7 linked regions of the Homo sapiens genome follow. The protein of the gene in region 3 purifies or fractionates together with the protein of the main gene of each other region. This does not show direct contact. Each region holds a gene or a part of one and is shown on either strand. Other genes may lie near its edges.

Region 1 (3,500 bases), on a different chromosome or scaffold from region 3:
TGGGGGTTTGATATTTTATTGATTCAAGTGCCCTGCAGGTGAGTTGTTACAGAATTGGTCAAAGACTCTTGGCAGCTTTGGCCCAGCTTCAGGGTCAGGGGAATATAGCCTGCAGAGTGACAGTTGACACTGGAGCAGTCCTATAAACCAGGTGCCCATGTTTCCCATCCTTCTCCCTGCCCTGTCAACAGTACGTGTGGTGGCAGGAGTGACTGATCACCTGAAGGAGAATAGTACCAGTGCTGTGGCTTCTATGTCCCATGCTTTTAAGTCATTGTTATCTACCCCTTGCTTCCTTTTAGTAAGAGCTGGATATGGAAAGAGGTCAAAAGTTCCTGAAAGGAAATGAGAAACAAGTGGATAGTCAGTGGTTATCTTATAATAAAAGATATTACAAAGAAAATAAATATAGAACCACAAAAATCAAATATAGGTGCGAAGAAGAGTTTGATCAAGTACTCATCCAGCTTCTTAAGCTTTGGTCGCAAAGGATACGGATTGTCTCAGGAATGCTGGTATCCAGACAATCAATGATCTGCTGGAGCTCTTCCTGCATTCCAGGGGTCTGGAACAGGTCCTCCTACCAAAGAAGTCAGAATGAAGGGACAGGCAAGATAATCACTCCTGAGGTTATGATGATTACCCAAGGATCAGAAGAGCAGCAGGAAGCAAAAGGGAAGGGTGGTATGTGTGTTAATAATTACAAATGGAGGTGTGAAAATAACACATTTTTCCTTTAGCATTTCTCTAATCCATGTGAAATGTTATTTCAAATAGGAAAATGATCTTTTCAAAGGTTTTAGCCTGTACCTAATAAGGCAGGGGACTAGATGGCTAGAGCAGGAAACCAGGTGTTCTAATTCTAGCCTCCTTTAAAATTTTTTTTTATAGAGATGGGGTTTCACCGTGTTGCCCAGGCTGGTCTCAAACTCCTGAGCTCAAGCAATGCGCCCGTCTCTGCCTCCCAAAATGCTGGGATTACAGGCATGAGCCACCATGCCTGGCCTACTTGTAGCCTCTTGACAAGCAGCAGAAGGCAGAGTCCAAACAGAATAACCACATTCAAATGCTAGTACTACTGAACGCTGGGGAAGGAGGAAATCGCATGCTCATACTAAACCTTGCTTTCAAGTTACATTATTCGTCAGTAGGTAAGAGAACATTACCTTTCAATTTAGTCCCAAGAAATATCTCTTTTGGGGGCGAATGAGGTGGGGTGGCATTTTAGTTAGGATTTAAAAGAAAAATTAGGACCAAGTTAAAAAATGGGTTTAAAATCTGCTTTGGATTTTACAATCTCTAATGCCTACATGACTCATAGCCAAAGTAGGCATTATAGACTCAGGTGTGCAGCTGTCCAGGGAAAATGAGAGGGTAGCCAGGAGACAGGTGCTCTTAATTTGGTCCTGGCTCTGCCACAACTACACTTAGGCCTTTGTCTTAGTAAATAACTTACCTTTACATGCTTCAGCTGTGACATCTGTGACTAGGACACTTCCACCCACCCAGTCGATCTGACAGTGCCACTGTGTGCAGGTAGCTTGGGAAAGTTAAAAGCGCTATGCTGACGTGAGGTGTTGTGATTTCCTATAGTAGTTACACACCTTCCAAAGTTGTAGGGAAGGTCTACTCTCACTTACCTGGTGACAGGCGTATTTGAATAGGTGATCTACTAGAAGCCAGATCTCCTTGGGAACCTGAAGGGGTCTCTCACTGGCACCTTCATCCAAAGGAACCATTTGCAGAAGGGATTTCTCCTAATAGATGGAAAAGTATGAGAATCAAAGGGGTCTCAGAATAAAGACTTTGGTGTATAACTTAAAGTCCTTCAAATTCTGGTCATGCAGGTAAAATGTGATCTTCATCTCTTAAGATTTTCCATTTCTTCTCACTGGGGACACTCCTGGTCAGAAGGCACTTGATAGCGAGTCCCATAGTTAAAGGATGTCCTTTCCTAAATGCTTCACTTAATTGTTCTGCATTTCATTTGCGTTTATGATGTTTATTACGTGGATGCCTTGTGTTTAAATCCTTTCAAAGGTGACACTGAGAACCAGTGCTCCGGTGATACAGTCACAGTGGAGTCCATACAGCACTGGTGACTTGGGGACTATTAAATTACAATTGTCAATACAGTAGTTTGAGAGATCAAGGTCTACACTTAGGTTTTTGTTTATTTCTAACTTACTCTTCCTTCAGGTCTTACCACAGATACTGTTGTTTGTTTTCAATGTTGATTTAAATTAGCTTCTTTAGTTTTCAGGAATTAAAGACAACTCTCCACAACATTAGACCCACATATGTAAATACTTCAGGCTTGATGGAAGTTCTAATCTTAAGGTGCTAAAACTCGTAAGCCTTAAGGTCCAAAAATAGTAAACTGAATACAGCTAACCAAGAGGCAGAAATACCACGAAAAGTTTAAGGTCTGAGTCCAGAAGTTACAGTTTCTAGGAATAGCTCAGCCAAGATTTCTAGGGGCTTTTACTCCTTTCATCTATCTTTCTACTATCTGTTATATTCTTCTGAAAGAATTTTGTAAGAGAAAAACCCAGAAGTGACATAAATCAAATCAATCACTATATGTGAATTGGAAATGGCTAGGAAATAAACTCAGTTATCTTAGGTTCATGTAATCAAATATAAATTACATGAAAAAATGTTTGAAATAGTAAAGGCACCTGAAGGCACCCTTCATAAAAATCCCAGTGGAGAGAACCATGACCAATTTTTTTGCATCCTCCTCCCTCCCCCGCCTCTAGCTTGAGGTCATATATATTCTGTATGTTTAACTAAGAAATTCTTGCCTAACATTGTGCAACTTGTGAATTCCATCCACAACCCCCAGTCACGTAGCTTTAAAAGAAAAAAAAAGGAGCATGTCACTACTTTGACAGAGACCACATACACTACAGCCGAGCTGAGGTCTCTTCTTAACATTGTGTTCTTTAACAAGCACTGATGACCTTTAAAAGCTGCTGTGCCTTTCCAAGGGAATAAGAAAGAGAAGGGAGTGTGACAGTTGGTTACCATTTAAAATCTTTCTTTTTTTTCCCCACATTCAGTTTGCTTCCTTTCTTTCCCTGGGATTCTATCACTTGATATTCATGTTCCTAATAGTTGCCAGAATGTCTATCAATGGCTCATCCATTTACTTCTTTCCAGTTACAAATATCAAATCCAAGCATCCACATGGTATTTGAGACAAAACACTGTCCATCATGCACTCTGCTAACTCTCTGGACCAAATGCAGCACGTGTACTGATTCTTTAGCAGATGCCTCCAAACTTGCCATATAGAAATTATGCAGCACTGATTCATGTACTTTTTAAAAAGTCTGACATCCAACTGGAGCTTTTCCTGTACTAAGGCATTAAGGCAACACAAGGCACTGCCTAAGATAAAAAGACAGAACATGGACTGCTCTTAACAGGGAAGAGCTAGGAAGCACAGCTGTCTCAAACCTTGGTGGTTTAAAAAGGTTAATAAAGTGTCAGTA
Region 2 (3,500 bases), on a different chromosome or scaffold from region 3:
TCTGTATAGAAAATTTGCAGAGTATTAGTTAGTTAGCTTATTTAAGAAGTTTAACAATGATTACAGTGCCTACCTAGATCCTTTGAACTCCTCTGATGAAAGGGACTAATTCAATATAAAATACTTTTAATTTGAAAACAAAACACACACTGAGTTTTAACTTGTTTTGGTAGAGATTCTGAGTGTCTATCTTTAGATGGTGGCAGACATTAGGAGATGTAGAAACAGTATGAAGGTCAGGGAAGAGAGGCAGGTGATCAACTCTTGCTAATATAGGCTGATATCAGATAACTCTTAAGTTTAATAATTAATCTCATTTTAGCTGGAATAAATTTTTCACTTGTCAAGTATTTTTTTTTACTGTGCCTAATTGGCACAGTAAAATTGGCAGATATAATTTTAAGGACTTTTTGTCATGTTCTAACTTCTTCATAAAAACCTCTAATTTGTAAGATTTAAGATACTGCACAACATGAGAGGTACTGCAAATTACAGACAGCAAAGAATCGGTACAAATAAAAAACCAAATATTTATTTTGCTCTAACAAGACAGATGCATTAGGAACTTTACATTATTAAAAACTGCATTATAAAAAACAATTTTTTTTTTTGTGAGATAGTCTCGCTCTGTCGCCCAGGCTGAAGTGCAGTGGCATGATCTCAGCTCACTGCAACCTCTGCCTCCTGGGTTCACGCCATTCTTCTGCCTCAGCCTCCTGAGTAGCTGGGACTACAGGTGCCTGCCACCACGCCCGGCTAATTTTTTGTATTTTTAGTAGAGACGGGATTTCACCATGTTAGCCAGGATCGTCTCGATCTCCTGACCTCGTGATCCACTCACCTCGGCCTCCCAAAGTGCTGGGATTACAGGTGTGAGCGACCGCGCCTGGCCTATAAAAAACAGTTGTTTTAATAGAAGGGGGCCAAAAGTAATTTTTTTTTCTTATGAGAACTAAAAAAAATAGGTGTCATTAAAATGTCATAAAACCTAAATATCACAAAGCAGATCCACTGAATTATACTGAACTTTTTTGCCTTTGGTAGCTCTACCAACATTATTGCTAATGCATGCTTTACCATTCTTGTCATCTTTCTCATCGATTGTTTCAAAAGTAACAGGAGCAAAAGAAATCATGTTGTGTAATTAGCAGAAGACATTTTCTTCAAATCCTCTTATGGATATTGGCCTTTAGGAGACACAGTTGCATTTCAATTTACATTTTAAGATGGTAAATGTATTAAGGTGGGAAATACTCCTAAGTCAATTCAAAATCTTTTTAAGTAGGTTATAAGAAACAGGTTTCTTGTAATTTAATGTAAGAAGTTCTAATAGGAATTTGTCACTTTACTTGTGAAACTCATATTTCTCCCAAGTAAACAATTAAATTTCTCAATTTGTGACACACAACTTGCTGATACTTAGAACTGAAACAGACTATTCTATCATTGAAGGTGGTGAGTTTGTTTTCAACCCTGATACTCAAATAAAAGACCATTTATTGGAAAAATCAAGTACTCACCTAGGTATTACCAAAATAAACTATTCAGCCTTGAGATTCCATGATTCTCAGTTTCTAAATTAAATATGGCCCACAAACCACAACCACTTCAGATAGAAAGCAATTTGCCTAAACTTACTCCTATCCACAATATGCATGCTTTAAATAATAAATGTTTGTTGATGTTTTAAAATAAGGGCATCACAAGCACAGAGAAGTTATTCATTGGATTGAAATCATGTTAATCATTTACAAAATCTTGAGACGTTGACTTGAATTAAAACTATTAATAATTACATCATGACTATCATCTTACACGTTAAAGTGCATTTTGTCTTTTAAAGTGTTTTCAGATATGTTTTACTGCATCCCACAAGAAGCCCCTAGGAAGCAGGTAAGGAAGGTTTATATTATCTCCTTCGCTCAGAGAAGAAATCTAAGGCCGAATGAGGAAAACAGGCCCCTGGGTAAATTGGTGGCAAAGGATTCTAGTTATGGGCTTTTCTACGCCATGCTGACAAAACTACTACACAAACCACTCTTATGTCAGACAATATGTGGATTTTTAAAAAAAATAAAATTACTTCTATAGATAGGTCTATATTTATGTTTGCTGCAATGAGCTTAGTTGAGGCCTTTCATAAACAGGAAGATTAGGAATTTCTAAAATGAGAAACCATGACTAGATAACAAATACTTACCAAAATAGTCCAAAATATTTGGCTACTTAAGAAAAGACAAAATTAGAAGTTTTGTACTTAAAAAGGCATTAAAATTCTTAGTTAAAAGAGATTTAAAATAATGCTATACATTAAAATATTATTTTCAACATTTAGCTTAAATACTTAGGAGTGACAGTGTACTTGATCAGATCTAAGATACCATAAGTAACCATGACTGAGCTCATTTTCATGGCAGATTTAAGTCTGGATATGACACCATAGAATTAAGAATAGCAGCACCTGGATGAAACATACCTACTGCAGATTATTTGTACTGTAGACCATACCAATCACCAAAATCTCCTCAAATCTTTTTTTGAAATTAGGCAGAGAAACTTTAATGAAATACTAACCTGCATCATTTCTGTTTTGAAATATAGTCATGGCTTCAAGATTTAATGCACATACACCCCTCATGAAAGCTTTTTTCATGGAATCTTCAAAGTGCTCTTTTTCATGTTGCATTCTTTGAATCTCAGCTTTTGCATTTTCCAAAGCTCCAGATAACTAAAATAAGAATGTTTAAAAAGCAAAACAATTTGAGATACAAAGAAGAATACTGTCAAAAAAATAGATATATACTTTGAGATTATTCTCATGTGAAATATTAAAAAGTTTGTCACTTACCTCTTCTGCTATGTGCAATTTATTTTAAAAGGTACCTCTTACCTCTATTATCTCCATCAACAAAATGCTTTCATTCCTAACCTTAAAATCAAGGTTCAAACAAGGGGAATTTTATCCAGTCCCATTGAATATTGCTGATGTATTTTCATTTCACAAAAAGATACACCATTTTTTACTGTAAAACTTTTATGTAGGATGTTAAACAAAATACATTAAGAGCCACAGACAGCCCTTTCAGAAAAAAATAAAATAAACTACATGCCTGCAATATTAACAGAATTTTTATAATGTAAATGTTACCTTCAGTATTTGAAGTGCAGAGTGACCCTAGGTACAACACACTTTCCCATAGGCCAAACCTCAGGGGACTGCATTTTTTGCATGTCGTAGTGAACTGCAGAAAATTATTTGTATTATGGATTTATTTTTAATCTTAACAATTTAATGCTGTAATGAGTTATTTTTTCATTTTAATATTTAACTTCAAGAGGCCTATTGCATTCTTTAGAATGGATTTTATTTCATTTCAATTCCAAATGTTTTCCCATGAAAACAATGTTAATTTTATTATTAAAAGTCAATGGGAAAAAATAATTTCAATTTCTTTTTTTCTTTTTTGAGATGGATTTCTGCTCTTGTTGCCTAGGTTGGA
Region 3 (3,500 bases):
CTTGGGTTCTGTATTCCTCATAAAGGTCAACTTTGACTCGAGAGAAAATAAGTTCTATCGGCACTGCCTCCCCCAGCAGACTGTACACAATCACATGCTGCAGAACGATGTTTTGGACAATGATGAACCGGATACACGACAGTGGTCTCCTAAGATGATCATGGAGCTGAAAACTTCATCGAGAGCTGTCATAACACCACAGTGCAATTACTCTATTTTTAAAATAAATGTACTGCAGCCTCAGTGTGCCATGTTGATAAAGTCTGCAGTCATGTACAGCAATGTCCTAGGCCTTCACATTCACTCAGCGCTCACTCACTGACTCACCCAGAGCAGCTTCCAGTCCTGCAAGCTCCGTTCATGGTGAGTGCCCAATAGAGGTGTGCCATTTTAAATCTTTTCTATCATTTTTACCGTACCTTTTCTATCATATTTTTACTGGACTTTTGTGTGGATATGTTTAGATACACAAGTACTTATTAGCACTGTGTTCCAACTGCCTACAGTATTCAGGACAGTAACATGCTGTACAAGTGTGTGGCCTAGATGCAATCAGCCCAGCGTCTGGTCTAGGTGTATAGCAGGCTCTACCATCTAGTTTGTGTCCATACACTCTATGATGTTTGTACGAGGATAAAATAACTTCACAATGCATTTCCCAGAATGTGTCCTCATCGTTAAACAACACACGACTGTACTCCAAAAGGGCAGAAAGGCTTACACGTCTTGGTGCCCACCCCGGGAGCTTGGCCCAGCTGCCTGGTATTCAGAGTCCCACAGTCAATGGTGGATGAATTAATGCTTGCACAGATGGAGACAAGTCATCATTGAGTGACCATTATGCACAAACTGCACATGTTACAAGTCTAAAAGATTATCAGGATATTTGATAAGGTTTAAAAAATTCAATGGTGCCTGTATCTTTAGAAATCTATACAAGTAGAGACTTACAGAGAAAATTCAGTAAATGAACCTAAAATCTTGAGAAATTTCTGTTTGAGTTCACTTTCAATGAGTGTATCAACATAATATTATATAAATATTTTCTGTAACTAAAATCAGCTTTTTGTGGGAACACTCTCTTACTTTGATGAACTTGGAATTTTGGTCCTCGAGAAGCAGAATCTCCTCTTCCATCTTCTTGATCTTGGCCTCTGCTGTCACCTTTTCCAGCTGCAGCTTTTGCCGAGCCCCTTCCTCCTCGTCTAGCTGTTCTTCCAGGTCCTTGTGAAGAACACACAGTCAGTCTCGCCACTTTCTCGAGATTTGACCACACATTCATTGTGCACAGGAATGCATTACAATGAGATACTAATTTTTTTTTTTTTTTTGACACGGAGTCTCGCTCTGTTGCCCAGGCTGAAGTGCAGTGGTGCCACCTCGGCTCGCTGCAACCTCCACCTCCTGGGTTCACGCCATTCTCCTGCCTCAGCCTCCCGAGTAGCTGGGACTACAGGTGCCCGCCACCACGCCCGGCTAATTTTTTGATTTTTTTTTTGGTAGAGATGGGGTTTCACCATGTTAGCCAGGATGGTCTTGATCTCCTGACCTCATGATCCATCCGCCTCAGCCTAGATACTAATTTTTGATTCTCAAAATGCCAAGGATATTTAAAAAAATATGAAATGCAGTTATGTGAAATAGACATTTGTATCCGCTACAGGCTAAAGTACAAACTGGGTCAATCCTTCTAGAAGCCAACATGGCAAAACATAGCTTTAAAAATGAGCCTTTCCTTTCAACCAGCAATTTCAGGAAATTGTCACAGATGCAATTTATATAAAAAGACATACAGTGATAAGTTATTTATAATATTGAGTAACTATGAACATGCTACAAAAAGGTCTTGGTAATTAAATGTTGGCACATTTGTTAAATGGAATAATATATAGTAATTAAAATTCACATTTTGGAATAATAGCAACACAGACAAACATGAATAATGTAGTAGCACTCATCAAATGTGTATTTAATTTAGCTGAATCCAACTATATACATGTTCGGCCAAAGAAGAGAGAAAGAGAACATGAAAACAATAATTTAAATAGTACAGGTCGTGAGAAATGAGCTGTCTCAGTTCAAGTGTACCTTTCACAGCAGAAGCACCTCATCAAACTGGGCGGGAGCATAGAGTTTACATGTATTTTTATTAGAACGTGCAGATCTTTATAATCTACATTACTGTTTATGATAAACATGCTATTACACAGGATCACAGATAGATTACCCCATTTTATATGAGGTGATTATTACACACTACATGCCTGTATCAAAACATCTCATGTACCCCATATATATATATATATATATATATATATATATATATATATATATACACACATACATACATACACACACACACACTTAATATATACGCATAAAAATTAAAATTAAAAACAAAGTGTTACAGCTCTTTTAGAATTTGTCTAGCAGGATTTCTGGTTTCTGGTGGAAAGCTCCCATCCCCTCCAAAAAACGAAATTAAAAAAAAAGTTAAACAAAACAAAACCCAGGCTGGGCGCAGTGGCTCACGCCTGTAGTCCTAGCACTTTGGGAGGCCGAGGTGGGTGGATCACCTGAGGTCAAGAGTTCGAGACCAGCCTGGCCAACGTGGTGAAACCTCGTCTCTACTAAAAATACAAAAATTAGCTGGGCGTGGTAGCAGGCGCCTGTAATCCCAGCTACTGGGGAGGCTGAGGCAAGGGAATCACTTGAACCGAGGAGGTGGAGGTTGCAGTGAGCCGAGATTGCGCCATTGCACTCCAGCCTGGGCAACAAAGCGAGACTCCGTCTCAAAAACAGAACAAAAAAACAAAAACAAAAACAAACCCCAAAAAACCAAAACTAGGGTTGTACAAATCAACACATGGCCAACTTAAGGAAATGTTCAAGAGTAACTTCGGCTAAATAATTTACTCATCGTTAATTTTAGAATGAAACCATGGCAAAAAATGAGTGTTTTCTTGTAAAAATTTCAAACACACATACAAGCACACAGACCAGCATAATAAGCCCCACACAGAAGCATCACCTTGACCTTAACAAGCATCAACTCATGGTCAATTCCATTTCATGTGTGCCTCCACCTGCTCCCTTCTCCCCCTAGGTTATTTTGAAGCAAATCCCAGACATCATATTTCACTTGTAAAACCTTCAGGCTGTACCTCTAAAATATAAAGACCATTTAAAAAGCACATTTGTCTGTTTCAATCACAATCCAAAAATTGTGCCTCATGAGTACAGCCTGTATTTCAAAAAGAAAGTTAAGTACCAGGGAAGGGCTAATTTTTAAAAATTCTCATTCTGACTGTTGGCCACCTCCTATGTCAGTGCTGAGCGTTTCTTATTAGCCAAACCACGTAGTAGATGTCTATCTAATGAATGGAGTGAGCAACAGAATCACTGACAACATGAAGAACAAGTTAGGTCTTCTACAGAATGCTATAGATCCTGGGAGGTTTGCGACTGTGAATCTCTTTGCAAACTGTAAGATGCCACTT
Region 4 (3,500 bases), on a different chromosome or scaffold from region 3:
TTATGACTGAGACAGTCAAAGAGATCTAATCTAACCGACTCCATCTTGGTTCTAACCTTTAAGCTGTCATTGTTCGTTCCTGGGTGTAGGCTGAACTAACTTTGGGAGAACTTAGTTTATAGTTTATAGTCTAAAACAAAGACAATAAAAGCCATTTCCCAAACAAACCCCCTTCTTGCCTGGAGACTAGATTGCCTTTGTAGGACTAACAAATTAGCCAAAAGATTAGAAATTATCATTTAGGAGTCATGCAGCTGAAGGCTACAAGATTCTGACCACCACTAAACTGCTCCTAATATCACTGCTTGAGATATTTTGCAGACCCTGCACTTGATGGATCAGCTGGCAACACCCAGATCGATAAATTGGCTCATCTGATCTTGTGGCTCCCACCCAGGAAGTGACTCAGCACAAGAAGACAGCTTTGATTCCCTATGATATCATCTCTGACCTGACCAATCAGCACTCCTGGCTCACTGGCTTCCTCCCACCCACTAAATTGTTCTTAAAAACTCGGATCCGTGAATGCTTGGCGAGACTGATTTGAGTAAAATAAAACTCTGGTCACGTGCACACTCGGCTCTGCGTGAATTACTCTTTCTCTACTGCAATTCCCCTATCTTGATAAATCAGCTCTGTCTAGGCAGTGGGCAAGGTGAACCCTTTGGGCGGTTACAAATATAAGGACACTTCCAGGAACAGTCTGTTACTACACAGGTGTGTATTCCCTCTTTTTTTTTTTGAGACGGAGCCTCGCTTTGCCGCCCAGACTGGAGTGCAGTGGCATGATCTCGGCTCACTGCAACCTCCACCTCCCTGGTTCAAGCAATTCCCCTGCCTCAACCTCCCAAGTAGCTGGGATTACAGGCGCACACCACCACGTCTCGCTAACTTGTTTGTATTTTTAGTAGAGGTGGGGTTTCACCATGTTGGCCAGACTAGTCTCGAACTCCTGACCTCAGGCAATCCGCCTGCTTCAGCCTCCCAAAGTGTTGGGATTACAGGTGAGAGCCACCACGCCCCACCAGGAGTGTATTCTTACACCAATATTCTGCTATACTCTTAGATGAAGAAGGGACAACCCTAGTCAGCTAATAAACTGGCACCCTTCCAAACCTCTACTTAGTATTAGTTGTTTAATCTTTATCTGAAGAAGCTTAGTAGTAATTCACCTCTTTGAGGTTCAACCCCATTCAGAATGGCACAGTAGTTAACTAACATTAACTGAATCCACCCTCCTTAAAATGACAGTTTGATAATCATCTTTTGTTATTCAAAATTATGTGTCTTAGCTCACCTCCCAAAAGGATTAATAAAGTACGGTATTCTTTCCAACCACATTCTAATCTCTTTCTGAGAGGAGTTCTGGTAAGTGCAACTTTCTCCATCTCTTTACATTTATGAGTCTGAAGTTTCCACATGTCTGGGAATTTCGGGACTGGCCCCGCCGCCCCACCACCCCACCATAGTCTGGTTGCTCAGATAGTTAACTGCTCAACTACTTACTCCAAGTTTATCATAAGTCCCTTTGAAAGAAAAAGCTAGGAAATAAAAGACGGGAATTTTATTGCGTATATACCTCAAGCCTCAAAGCAAAGAAGGCTGTAACTGAATTTTAAGACAAAATATAGCTATTTCTTCTTTTTCCAGTTAAAAAGCAATTAATAGGACAAATACAAATATCTATGAATATAGAACTATTTAAGCAATATTTAAAAACTAAAATATCCAAACAATTACAAATAGCCCACTTATTAGCATGTAAGCAGAACTGACCTGTTCATATGAAATCTAGCTACTGCTATTAATAAAACAGTGTAGCATAATAAATGAATTTCAATTACAATGAAAATGTGGTGTTACAGACTATGAAATTTTTGCATATTAAAACAACTTTTTTGGTTGGGCACAGTGACTCACACCTGTAATCCCAATACTTTGGGAGGCTGAGGCAGGTAGATTACTTGAGATTAGGAGTTCGAGACCAGCCTGGCCAACATAGTGAAAGCCCGTCTCTACTGAAAATACAAAAATTAGCCGGGCATGGTGGTGTGTGCCTGTAATCCCAGCTACTCGGGAGGCTGAGGCAGGAGAATCGCTTGAACCCAGGAGATGGAGGTTGCAGTGAGCCGAGATCATGCTACTGCACTCCAGCCTAGGCAATAGAGTGAGACACCATCTCAAACTAACAAGCAAACAAAAAACACTTATTTTCTCCTAAATAACAACAAAGAACCAAAAAAACAAAACAAACCCTTGCATCTTTCTGAAACTATTAGGACCACGGACACTTCTACCTCAGCCCATATCTATCAGCTCACATCCTGGAATCTCTCAAAATCCTCCTCTAGGTTTTCTTGGGGTTTCATTTTTGTTTTTGTTTTTCTTGTGGAGAAGGGTTTTCTCTATGTTGCCCAGGCTGGTCTCAAACTCCTGAACTCAAGCGATCCTCCCACACTGGCCTCCCAAAGTGTTGGGATTAAAGGTGTAAGCCAAGGAGCCTGGCTCTCCTCTAGTTTTTAAATTAACCTTTTGACAAAATGAAGCTTACCTACTGGCTCTCCATCACTTTCTGGATTCTCTTCTTTAGTGAAGACTTCAGCCTGTGGTTCCAGCTGAGGAAGTGGTTTCAGTACATCAACATTCATCGGGCCATTTCGTAATCGTTGTTTCAGTAGAGAAACCTAATATAAATGTGCTTCATTAGAAAAAAGTCAAAAAAAACTATGGGAGTAGTACAATTGTCCCTTGGTATCTGTGGGGGATTGGTTCCAGGATTCCCTGTTAATACCAAAATCCGCAGGAGCTCAAGTCCATTATATAAAATGGTGTAGTATTTGCATATAGCCTACACACATCCTCCAGTATAATTTAAATCATCCCTAGATTACATAAACTACCTAAATAATGAAAATGCTATGCAAGTAGTTGTTGTACTACATATATTTTAGAAAATAATGAGAAGAAAAAAAGTCTACATGTTCACTACACATGGTTTTCACCCCCTAAATATTTCTGATCCAGTTGGTTGAATCCACACATACAAAAACACATCAATGTGGATGGCTTATTGTACTTTATTTAAAACAGAGAGAGGACGGATTAAATGATATTCTTCTTACTAAAGTGGGGGAAAATAATCAAAATAAAAAGTTTACTCCCAATACAGCTGGTTTTTATATTTGCTATTATTATTATGCAGTTAGTCAAAAGATACAATAAATAAAAAAGTATCCTTAACATTAACTGAAGAGCTAGGAGTGGTGGCTCATGCCTATAATCCCAACACTTTGGGAGGCCAAGGCGGAAGGATCGCTTGAGCCCAGGGGTTTGAGACCAGCCTGGGCGACATAGTGAGACCCCATCTCTACAAAAAATTTAAAAATTAGCTGGGCGTGGTGGCATATGCCTGTATTCCCAGCCACTCTGGAGGCAGAGGCTGGAGGATTGCTAGAGCCCAGGAATTTGAGATTGCAGTTAAGCTATGATCACGCCACTGC
Region 5 (3,500 bases), 9.7 Mb from region 3:
CTCCTGGCTCAGATCTGAGAGGCCCACCCAGCTCACTCAAAAATCCTTTACCATCCAGCTCCCCCAGAGAGACTGGGGGTGACCCAGCAGTCCCCCTGGGAGAGCTGGATGGTAAGCTTTTTTTCTGAGAAGGTCTCACTCTGTTGCACAGGCTGGAGTGCAGTGGTACGATCTCGGCTCACTGCAACCTCCGCCTCCCACGTTCAAGCAATTCTCCTGCCTCAGCCTCCCAAGTAGCTGGGATTACAGGCGCCCGCCACCACACCTGGCTAATTTTTGTATTTTTAGTAGAGACGAGGTTTCACCATGTTGGCCTGGCGGGTCTCAAACTCCTGACCTCAGGTGATCCGCCCACCTCGGCCTCCCAAAGTGCTGGGATCACTCACAGGCTTGAGCCACCGTGCCCAGCCACCTCCTGGAAGGTGCAGTCCCACCACCTCCCTTGCCACCACCCATCTCCCAGGTGGCCAATTGAGGCCAGCCCCCCCAACCCTTGCCCTGTCCCTGCCCCTGCCCCTGCCTTACCATCTCGAAGGAATGTGTCGGCAAAGTATAGGCAACGCACGACACCCGACAAGGAGTCATCGGCAGAGCGGGGCTCAATGCGGCGCTGCACGGGCGTCATCTCCACGTCGTGGGGGCAGGCCTGCTCAGCCAGCTGTGCATTGGCTTCCTGCAACTGCCGGGCGGGGGCTCCTGAACACTGTCTCCCTAGCACCCCAGTGGCTTGCATCCTGCTTTGCGCCCTACGTTCTGTTACCATTCCTCTACCACCCAGCTTAGTTCACCCATCCCTCTGGAGGGCCCAGGGGCTGCCGAGGGAGGAGCACTGAGCTAAGCAGGCCCCAGGGGTCCCAGGCCAGAGCCAGGCCAAGGCACAGGACACAGGCACAGCTCCTGTGCAGCCCACCCCAGCTCACCTTGCTGCTGGCATTAGCAGCCCGCTTCTTGCCAGAGACACGACTCTTGCGAATGCGCCGGAAAGACTGGCGCAGTGACTTCTTGAGAGACTTCACCCGGGAGAGCGGACCCTCCATGGCCAGGGAGTCATTGGGGTGAAGAGTGCACCTGGGGGAAGACAGGGTCCAGTCGTGCTATAGAGCAGCCTCCTGGGGCAGCCACCACACTCCTGCTGGCCTGTGGAGGCACCCAGGTCAGGGAGTCACAGCCCCTCTGGCGCAGTCCTATGGACCCAGCTGCAGGTGGTACTGAGAATGTCCTTCTTGGAGCTGCCAGGTTATTTCTTATAGGGCAATGGAGGTTAGTGGCCTTTGCCACACCAAACACTAGAGGTGGAAACGGAAGCCCAGACCCCATCTCGCTGGGGGCTCCAACTGCCCAGCCGGCCCCACCCCACACACCTGGCCAGCACAGGGCTCTTGCGCTGGTAGTCGAAGAGGCCAAAGCCATGACTGGTGCCAAAAGCCACGAGGCTCCACTCGGTGTGGAGTGTGACAGCGGTTACAGCAGCTGGCGGCAGGCACTGCACCAGGACACGGGGCTGGAAGCCAGCAGGCCAGGGCAGCGGCCCCGTGCGTGGGCTCAGCCGCTCGTGGCCCTTCCATGTGAAGCCCTCGCGGTCCTGGAGGAGGTCTATGATGGCCACGCTGACCGCCTGCTCCACCGGCACATCACTAAGCTCCAGTACCAGCACCTGAGCCCACAGCCAGGCAGGGGGAGCATCAGCGCAGGGGAGGGGCCGCCCTGGGCCCCACTCAGCCTGGAGCCTCTGAAGCAGCCCCAGCCACCACCAAGGTGGTTCTAGGACTGTCTTCAGTTCATCAGCTAAACAAGCACTCACTGAATGCCTACTGTATACCAAGGCCCTGGCTGAGCACAAGGAACACAGTGGTGACCAAGACACACTAGTCCCTGCCCTCTGAGGGCAAAGTGTCCACCCTTACCCTGAGCCTCTATCTCCCATTTAGCAATAAGGACACATTGAGCACCTCCTGTATGTCATGTGAGTGCCGGAGCACAGCACTGACATGAGTTCCCTCCTCTCAACACTGTGGTTCCCCCAGCGACAGGCCCACTTCCCATCTGTCCTCACCCCAGCCAGCCCCACCCAGAGCCCTATTCCCACCTTGGCTTTTGCCTGTGCCAGTCCATCTCCCTTTCCACCAGACCCTCCAGCTCATCTCTTCCAGAAAGCCCTCCCTGACATCTCCAACCCAGGGGACACCCAGCCCTACCTGGCCTGCAGTGCCAGCCACCACCATCTGGGCTGTATACTTGCAGAGAGCAACCTTCTGCACGCCAAGCCGGGGATCGTCACTGTAGGGATCGAAGCAGCCCACCTAGAGGGATGGGAAGGAGTAATGAGTCCAGGCGGGGTCAGGACCAGCTCATCAGGGCCAGGGGAGGGGCCCACCTTGCGGAAGGGTGGCCAGTCGTCCTCGGCAGCCTGGGCCAGGCTGTCAGCGTGCTCACAGTCTGTCTGGAAGAGGCCAGCTGTGCTCAGCTTATAGAGCGGCCGCAGCGCCACACCCGAGGCATCCCAGAACCTCACGGTGCCGTCCTCATGGCTGCAGGGAGGGCAGATGTCAGGGCTACCCGAGTTCCTGGGAGGCCTGCACGCCCCTCCATTCACTCATCTGATAACCACTCACTAAGCACCTACTGCACGTGCCAAACACTGACCGGAATCCTACTTTTACAAAAAACAATAGGCACCTACTGTAGACAGCACAGGTACACTGTGCACCTGTTATAGGCCAGGCCACATGCACCATATGCACCTGGAGCCTTTAAACCAAACAAGGTGGAAATGACCACCCTGATTAACAGGAGGTGGCAAAGGGGGACATGTAGAGAACAGAGGACTTTGGGGGTTCTGCCTGCACTGGAGCAGCCATCAGAGGTGATCAAGAGTAAGGCAGTCACAGAACAGAGCATGGGGCATCCCGGGGGAGGAGCTGCATGGGGCCCAAGGCAGCCACGTAGGTGGAGGAGCAGGAAGACTACAGAGGCCGGGAGAAAGCAGGGAGGGGGCAGGGGAAGGAGTAGACAAATCTAGGGCGCAGCCTTGGGACACAGCTGCAGAGTCCAAGCAGGGCCCCAGGCGGTGGTGAAAGCCCAGAGCCAGGGCGTGAGAGGTGTGTGACTGTGGGGGTGGTTGAGACTCATTCCAGCAGCCCTGAAAGCCACGGCAAGCTCTTCAGCAGGGAAGGGCACACCAGAGTCAGAGGCCTGAGGGTCCCAGCACAGGCGGGAGTGGGGGCAGGGCAGGAAGTTGAGACCTGAGTCACTGGGCACGTCAGCGCCCGCCAGGCCCACGCTGGGCTCTCTGGCACCTTCCCTGGGCAGCTCAGCGTGGGCCAGCCCAGATTTTCCAGTCCCAGGGCAGGCAGGCTGGGCGGGTGGAGCCCTGGGGTTTGGTAGAGCTCAGTTCCAGGCCAAAAGGCAGATCAGGGCAGCACCTTGAACCAAGGTCCAGGGAGGTTTCATTCCAAACCACCTTGGGCAAGGAGGAACTACCTGGTCCCACCAGGGGCCAG
Region 6 (3,500 bases), on a different chromosome or scaffold from region 3:
TGGGTAGATCTTAGTGACACTGGGTTAGGCTAAAGTTTTTTTAATAGGACACAAAAAACACAAACTATAAAATAAAAAAATTGGTAAATTAGACTTCACTGAAATTAGAAACTTGAGTTCTTCAACACACACTGCTGAGAAAAGGAAAAGGCAAGGCACAGACTGGGAGTAAATATTTGCAAAACATATATTCAACAATGGACTTGTATCCAGAATATAGAACTCTTATAACTCAGTTTAAAAAACCAAATCAAAACAAACCAACAACAACAAAACCCAGTTAAAAAGTAGGGAAAAGATTTGTACAGACAGTTCACCAAAGATATATGGCTGGTAAACAAACACAATGAGAAAATGCAAATTAAAACCACAGTGAAGTACTGCTGTACATGTGCTAGAATGGCTAAAATGGGTAAGACTGACAATATGGCAAGGGTTGTCAAGGGATTGGAACTCTCCTAATTTGCTGGGGAGGATCCAAAATTGTTCAGTCACTTTGGAAAACAGTTGGGCATTGGCCAGGTGCAGTGGTTCATGCTTTTAATCCCAGCACTTTGGGAGGCTGAGGCAGGAGAACTGCTAGAGTCCAGGAGTTGGAGACCAGCCTGGGTAACATGGAGAAACCCCATCTCTACTTTAAAAAATAAAAAAAAATAAAAATAGTTTGGCAGCTTCTAGACAAATTAAACATACACTTATCCTATGACCTAATAATTTCACTCTTTGGCACTTAAGAAAAATGAAAACATATATTCACACAAAGAGTTATAGGCAAATGTTCATAGCACCTTTATTCACATAAGCCAAAACCCAAAAACAATCCAAATGTTCAAGTGGAGAATGAATAAACAAACATGTTCATACAACAGAATACTACTCAACAATAAGAAGAAATAATATAAAGAAGAAACACAGATGAACCTCAATAGCATTATGCTAAATAAAAGAAGACAGACAGGAAAGACTGTAATGTAAGACTCCAATTACATACACTTCTAGAAAAGGCAAAATTCTAGTGATAGAAAGCATATCAGTCTAGTCAGGGGCCGGGAGGTTGGGGGAAGAAACTGACTGCAATGGGGCATGAGGATTCTCTAGGGGGACAGAAATGTTGTGTATCATGATTATGGTGGTGGCTATGTGATTACACACTTGTCAAACATCACAGAATTCTACACTTAAAATTGGTAAGCTTTATTATATATAAATTATATATTGGTAAAGCTAGCCAAATAAAGGGAAAAATAAAAGTATAATGAGATACCATTTCACAACCATCAGTCTGGAAAAATTTTAGAGTCCAAAAGTACTAAGAGCTGACAAGGAACTGGAGCTACAGGTAGTTTACTCTTACATATTACTACTAGGAGCAAAGACTGCTAAATCATTTTGGAGTGCTAAGGATGTACACAACTTATGACTGGCAATTTTACTTCTAGTTATATAGAAAAGTCCTTACACTTGTGCCTTAGGAAACACATACAAGATTGCTTCCAGCAGCTATATTTTTTCAAAAGCAAAGAAAATGAAAACAACCTAAATGTTCATTAAGAGAAGACGGAATAAGTAAACTGTGGTGAGTCATACAGGAATCAACTGTGTATCAGAAACATAATGCTGATAGAGTAAAGTTGTAGCAGGATATATACAGTATGTTTTCATTTGCTTAAAAGTGAAAAATGTTATTTGTTTGTGGCTGCATACATATGTGGAGAAGTATAAAGACATGTATGGATGCTAATAAACACTGAATTCAGGATTGTGATTATTATCTCTAGCGGGCAGAGAGGAAGATAAAGTAGGGGGAGGGCTTAAACTGTTTTGGCTGTTTCATTTCTTAAACTGGGTGATAAGTACATGAATATACATATTTCATATAAAATCACTTTTTTCAAAACAAAAAGGACGCAATTACCTTGCTGAAGGTGACATTGTATCCTCTTGCAAGAAATGGCAGAAATAACACTTTAGTATAATATTATTTTAGAAGTTGCCTCACTTAAGGCAATCATGAAAAATAATTATGTGAAAGAAATGTTTCAGCTGTAATATTTTTAAACGTCTGAATATTTTATCTAATTGCTTCTTTTGAACTGGTAATTTATTCTAAGTAGCAATTTGGGAGACATAATAATCTCATTGTAAGTTTTTCTCCGTACATTACAGACAAGTACTTATAAATAAACAAATAGTTCTAACTTAAGTGGTTTCAGGGCTTCTGAGATACCAATGACATCAAGGAGGAAATGAAATTATCTGTACGCTTTAAGAGCTCCTGGTATTCAATTATCCCTGTTGAGATACCCTAGAGGAGATACAGTTCTAGAAGCCAGCATAAGTTTATAGTTCTGAAATATAAATTCTCCAATCTTCATGACTCATAAACCAAAAAGCATAAAACACTCACTAACAGAGTAACAAACTGAGAAATCTACTTGGATTTCCGGGCTGTTTCTTTTACTTGATAAAAAGACACAAAATACAAACATGAAAAAACAATACTTTAGTTCACTGAGGCCTACATTATGCCACTTTGAGGTTGCTTTTTAACATTTAACTTACTTTCTTTAACTTATCTCCTATACTGACACTAAAACATATACACATAAATACTTACTGGCAATTTTCAAAGATGTTACAGAATCTTTCTATTTTCAGTCACACTTCAGGTAAATAGCTACCCACCAATGAGCATTTTTAAGGAACTAAGATATACTTATTTAACTTTCTGTTTTTGAAAAGAGTATGTATTTTATCAACTCAATGTACAAAGTCAGAAAAACCATCAACAGCTCAAAGCATTCTAAACCAAAGAGCAAATTCAATAGAATCAAGGATTAAATTTTTAAGAACATAGTTGAATCTAAAGAACTTCACCCATATTTACTTCCAAATTGTGTAAGAATCTATAGAAAGGTTTTAGCCAGTCTGCTTCATTTTAGTTATGTCAAATGACATATAATGAATTTGTTATGAGCTTCCTCATTTATTAGTCAATAAGCTGTACTTTTTATGAAAATCCCAAAATGAGAATTTTTACAAGTTTAAAATGTTTTTAGAAAATTAAACAATGAAACCTCAGAAAAAAAAATACGGAGTTAGTGATGCTACTACTTATATAAAGCATAAATAGCAACTCAAGATTTTATTAATTTTTTTTAAACTTTGGATCACTTAAATCAAAAGCAACTCAAGATTTTGAACTGACTGTACAGAGAATGTTTCCACTCTATGATGTTAACCATGAAATACAGAATTTGCAAAAATAAAGTTTCGTGATAAAATTAAGTGTAATCTGTTCTAAAACACTCAAACACTCAAATGATGGAGGTATATAATGCCTTAGGTGGTCTTAAATCCAAACATACCAATTTTTCTCTTTCACTGATAAACATTTTATATATATACGTAAAAGTTTTTGAGCACATGTTTGAATGCTCCAGGACAGACATTTGGACATTGAATTACTGGGCAGAAGGATATAAGCAATTTAAAATTTT
Region 7 (3,500 bases), about 55 Mb from region 3:
TGTGTTAGGTACCATAAGAAATAATTCGTAGGTTTTCTGTTGCTTTTAACTCCCACAGCAGCTTTGTGAAATGATGCTTTATCTCCATTTTACAGATGAGGAAATTGAGGTTTGGAGAGAATAAATGATTTGCTCAGGGCCTCCTTACCAAATTTTTCTGACTCTGAAGTTCATATTCCTAACTGCTTCAGTCTAAGAAAGTTGTTATTTGTTGTTTTTTTTTTTGAGATGGAGTCTCGCCCTGTCGCCATGCTGGAGTTCAGTAGCGCTATCTCAGCTCACACCAACCTCCGCCTCCTGTGTTCAGGCAATTCTCCTGCCTCAGCCTCCCAAGTAGCTGGGATTACAGGCGCACACCACCACGCGCAGTTAATTTTTTTGTATTTTTAGTAGAGACGGGGTTTCACCATGTTGGCCAGGCTGGTTTCGAACTCCTGACCTCAAGTGATCCACGCATCTTGGCCTCCCAAAGTGCTAGAATTACAGGCGTGAGCCTCTGCGCCCAGCCTGTTATTTGTTTTTAAAAGTTTTGTTTGTTTTTAAAGAATGCCACATTGGAGGAGTGCTGATAATTCAGTTAGTCTCAGTCCATACCACAGAGATAACTGGCTTGTGGCAGCCAAGTGTGCATAGTGATGTTGCTTTTTAGAAGGAAAAAAAACAAAAACAAAACCTCAATCCAGGAAGAAATGCCTAAAAGAGCCACTTGATTTACTTCCTGTCTTTATACATGTCCTCTGAAGTATCAGTTGAAGAACCTGTCTACCTCTAGGAATGTATTTTACTTTGACACAAAATTAGATTCTATAACCCTGATTCACTTGTGTCAGTTGTCCCAGATTTCAGATGACAGTGCCAAACTTTTCCACTAGTGTGTTCTCAGCTCTGGAACTACTAAACAAGTTTGTTCATTAAGTAATGCCAGGAATTGGTTAGCTTCCTGGAAACAGAATTTGTCAACCTGATAAACCAGCTCTTATAATAGCGTCATCTTATACAGAATTAGAAATGATTTCTTCAGTCATACTTGTGGATCTGACTTGAAAAGTGGTGTGTGTATGTGTGTGCCTGTATGTGTATTCACATCCATCTTTGTTCAATATCTGAGTTGAAAGAACTGAAAATTCTCAATACTTAGGGTGGTTAATGTTGTTACTGATAACTCCTTGCATTCCGCTTTTAGGAGTATTGTTGGATGCTCCTCAGAAAACACTTAAACCTAGTCATAATCCTCCTTGTATTGATCCCAATTTATTATTACAGTTGGCCCAATTTTATATATATTTAATAATATCTAAGCCATTTAATATATAAACCTATACATATTATATATAAGCCAATCTTCCTAGCTTAGATGTTATGCTCTAGTTTTTAAAGTTTGGTTGTGAGGATAAAAATCAAAACAAAAAACCAAGTTCCCTTTTTGTTTTTGGGACAGGGTCTCACTGTCGCCCAGGCTGAAGTACAGTGGCATGATCATGGCTCACTGCAGCCTCAACCTCCTGGGCTCAAGTGATCCTTCCACCTAAGCCTCTCAAGTAGCTGAGCCTACAGCGTGCACCACCATGCCCAGCTAATTTTTTGTATTTTTTGTAGAATGTAGTTTTGCCATGTTGCCCAGTCTGGTCTCGAACTCCTGGGCTCAAGCAATCCACCTGCCTCAGCCTCCCAAAGTGCTGGGATTACAGGCATGAGCCACCCTGTCCAGCCAGGTTCCCTTCTTTAAAGAAGCTATAGGGAAATTGTAGAAGGTATAAAATAATTGATGGGATATATATGTGTTAATTTGACAGATGTCTTTTTGTAGATACCCACTTTCTCCTCATTCATTATCCCCTTTACTGCATGCTTTCTATATTACAGCTATGTCACTCTCATACATACTTTTGTATATGTTTTGAAGTGGAATCATATGGGAAGTTATGCTCCTGGTGGTTTTCCTGCAAGTTTTAAATCTAATTTTACTTTCCTGAACAAGCAAAAACCTCTTTATAGGCAACTTTGTCCTTTTCTGTACCTCGTCAGAGGGCATATAGGGCACCAGAGCAGATTTCGTCTAGGAAGAGGGGAGAGGCAAATAAGGTGAGGGGCCAGGCACGGTGGCTTATGTCTGTAATCCCAGCATTTTGGGAGGCTAAGGAGGGAGGATCGCTTGAGCTCAGGTGTTTGAAATCAGCCTGGGCAACATGGTGAAACCCTCGCTCAATAAAAAATACAAAAATTAGCAGGGCATGGTGGTGTGCACCTGTAGTCCCAGCTACTCTGGAGGCTGAGGTGGAGGATTGTTTGAGCCTGGGGGTGGAGGAGGCTGCAGTGAGCTGTGATTGCACCACTGCACTCTAGCCTGGGCAACAGAGTGAAACCCTGTTTCAGTCAGTCAGTCAATCAGTTAATCAGTAGTGGGAGAAGAGACTTGAGCAGTTTTACTTCCTACATTTCATGCTGTTCGTTTCTTTCCACAGGGTATTAGAATATTTCCAAGGGACAGTGATAAAGGGTAGAAGATAGGCACTCTCTTTGGGTGGAATCTTTTGTATTTGCTTCTTTTAAGGTGTGCCCCAAGTCCCCAAATGGCTCAGTTGTCACCAAAGCAAGTGTAACAACTCATCCCTCATGTTCCCTTCACGATCAACAGATTTATTCATTTTCAATCTCCAAATGCTATTTGAATGGGCAAAGATCTCTTAAAGGACCTGGGAAAAATTTGTACAACATGGAATTGGACTGGTTTGTGTTCTGGGTTTTGGCCAGTTGTTTTCAATGTATGAGAACTCTAGTACTCCATGCTATTTCAAGAAAAGGGGATTAAAAGTAATGCCAGTAAGGTGGAGACAATGCATTGCTTGGTCAGCTTAGGGAGGAAAAACAATAGAACTACCCTTTGACTTCCCCATGGGAAGTAGTAGGCCTATAAACTTGTAAAGAGTTGTGGGGGTTGCTGGTGGTGGCGGCATTCAAATGCTAGGCTTGTAAAACAACTTCTGTTCAAAGCAGTTACCTGAGGCCCTTATTTGGTACCTTTTAAAGTGTGCTCTCCTCCTTATGATGCTTTAAGAATAAGTCTGGGACTGACACTGTGCCATAATCCTCTCTCTATGGATTCATCTTTTCATTCAGTACCATATTACATTGTACTGTGTTCTTCACTTCAATTTTTCATCTATTTTTCCTGGTTAAGTTTCTCTGGCACTGGACCAACTGCCCTGTTTGAGCGTGTCCCTTCCCTGCAATGAATTGGTAAATATTGCTGCAGGAAATCTGATTGGAGGGCTATTAAGAAACCATTAAAGGCCAGGCATGGTGGCCCACACCTGTATGTAATCTTAGCACTTTGGGAGGCCGAGGCAGGAGGATCACTGGAGTCCAGGAGTTGGAGACCAGCCTGGGCAACATGGGGAGACCCCGTCTCTACAAAAAATAAAAAAATCATCCAGGCATGGTGGTGCATGCCTGTGTTCCCAGCTACTCAGGAGGCTGATGTGGGAAGGTCACTTGAGCCC

Evidence for each region.
Region 1: the proteins of MYH10 (region 3) and OCRL purify together in Homo sapiens (co-immunoprecipitation; one large-scale study listed by IntAct). This does not show direct contact.
Region 2: the proteins of MYH10 (region 3) and POC5 purify together in Homo sapiens (co-immunoprecipitation; one large-scale study listed by IntAct). This does not show direct contact.
Region 4: the proteins of MYH10 (region 3) and GOLGA4 fractionate together in Homo sapiens (co-fractionation; one large-scale study listed by BioGRID). This does not show direct contact.
Region 5: the proteins of MYH10 (region 3) and LLGL1 purify together in Homo sapiens (co-immunoprecipitation; one study listed by IntAct). This does not show direct contact.
Region 6: the proteins of MYH10 (region 3) and DCTN4 fractionate together in Homo sapiens (co-fractionation; one large-scale study listed by BioGRID). This does not show direct contact.
Region 7: the proteins of MYH10 (region 3) and MAP3K3 purify together in Homo sapiens (tandem affinity purification; one large-scale study listed by IntAct). This does not show direct contact.

The regions. Positions count from the first base shown.
Region 1 is NC_000023.11:129,585,259-129,588,758, reverse strand, and holds part of OCRL (inositol polyphosphate 5-phosphatase OCRL), read right to left. Parts: intron 1,758-3,500; coding exon 1,641-1,757; intron 581-1,640; coding exon 496-580; intron 1-495. UniProt on the Homo sapiens protein: Catalyzes the hydrolysis of the 5-position phosphate of phosphatidylinositol 4,5-bisphosphate (PtdIns(4,5)P2) and phosphatidylinositol-3,4,5-bisphosphate (PtdIns(3,4,5)P3), with the greatest catalytic activity towards PtdIns(4,5)P2.
Region 2 is NC_000005.10:75,686,438-75,689,937, forward strand, and holds part of POC5 (centrosomal protein POC5), read right to left. Parts: intron 2,729-3,500; coding exon 2,575-2,728; intron 892-2,574; coding exon of another isoform or gene 773-891; exon of another isoform or gene 511-772; intron 1-510. UniProt on the Homo sapiens protein: Essential for the assembly of the distal half of centrioles, required for centriole elongation. Acts as a negative regulator of centriole elongation.
Region 3 is NC_000017.11:8,508,726-8,512,225, forward strand, and holds part of MYH10 (myosin-10), read right to left. Parts: intron 2,461-3,500; exon of another isoform or gene 2,401-2,460; intron 1,225-2,400; coding exon 1,087-1,224; intron 364-1,086; exon of another isoform or gene 26-363; intron 1-25. UniProt on the Homo sapiens protein: Cellular myosin that appears to play a role in cytokinesis, cell shape, and specialized functions such as secretion and capping. Involved with LARP6 in the stabilization of type I collagen mRNAs for CO1A1 and CO1A2.
Region 4 is NC_000003.12:37,295,271-37,298,770, reverse strand, and holds part of GOLGA4 (golgin subfamily A member 4), read right to left. Parts: intron 2,685-3,500; coding exon 2,552-2,684; intron 1-2,551. UniProt on the Homo sapiens protein: Involved in vesicular trafficking at the Golgi apparatus level. May play a role in delivery of transport vesicles containing GPI-linked proteins from the trans-Golgi network through its interaction with MACF1. Involved in endosome-to-Golgi trafficking.
Region 5 is NC_000017.11:18,235,635-18,239,134, reverse strand, and holds part of LLGL1 (lethal(2) giant larvae protein homolog 1), read right to left. Parts: intron 2,529-3,500; coding exon 2,375-2,528; intron 2,301-2,374; coding exon 2,196-2,300; intron 1,655-2,195; coding exon 1,362-1,654; intron 1,069-1,361; coding exon 921-1,068; intron 680-920; coding exon 526-679; intron 1-525. UniProt on the Homo sapiens protein: Cortical cytoskeleton protein found in a complex involved in maintaining cell polarity and epithelial integrity. Involved in the regulation of mitotic spindle orientation, proliferation, differentiation and tissue organization of neuroepithelial cells.
Region 6 is NC_000005.10:150,749,018-150,752,517, forward strand, and holds part of DCTN4 (dynactin subunit 4), read right to left. Parts: intron 1-3,500. UniProt on the Homo sapiens protein: Part of the dynactin complex that activates the molecular motor dynein for ultra-processive transport along microtubules.
Region 7 is NC_000017.11:63,628,917-63,632,416, forward strand, and holds part of MAP3K3 (mitogen-activated protein kinase kinase kinase 3), read left to right. Parts: intron 1-3,500. UniProt on the Homo sapiens protein: Component of a protein kinase signal transduction cascade. Mediates activation of the NF-kappa-B, AP1 and DDIT3 transcriptional regulators.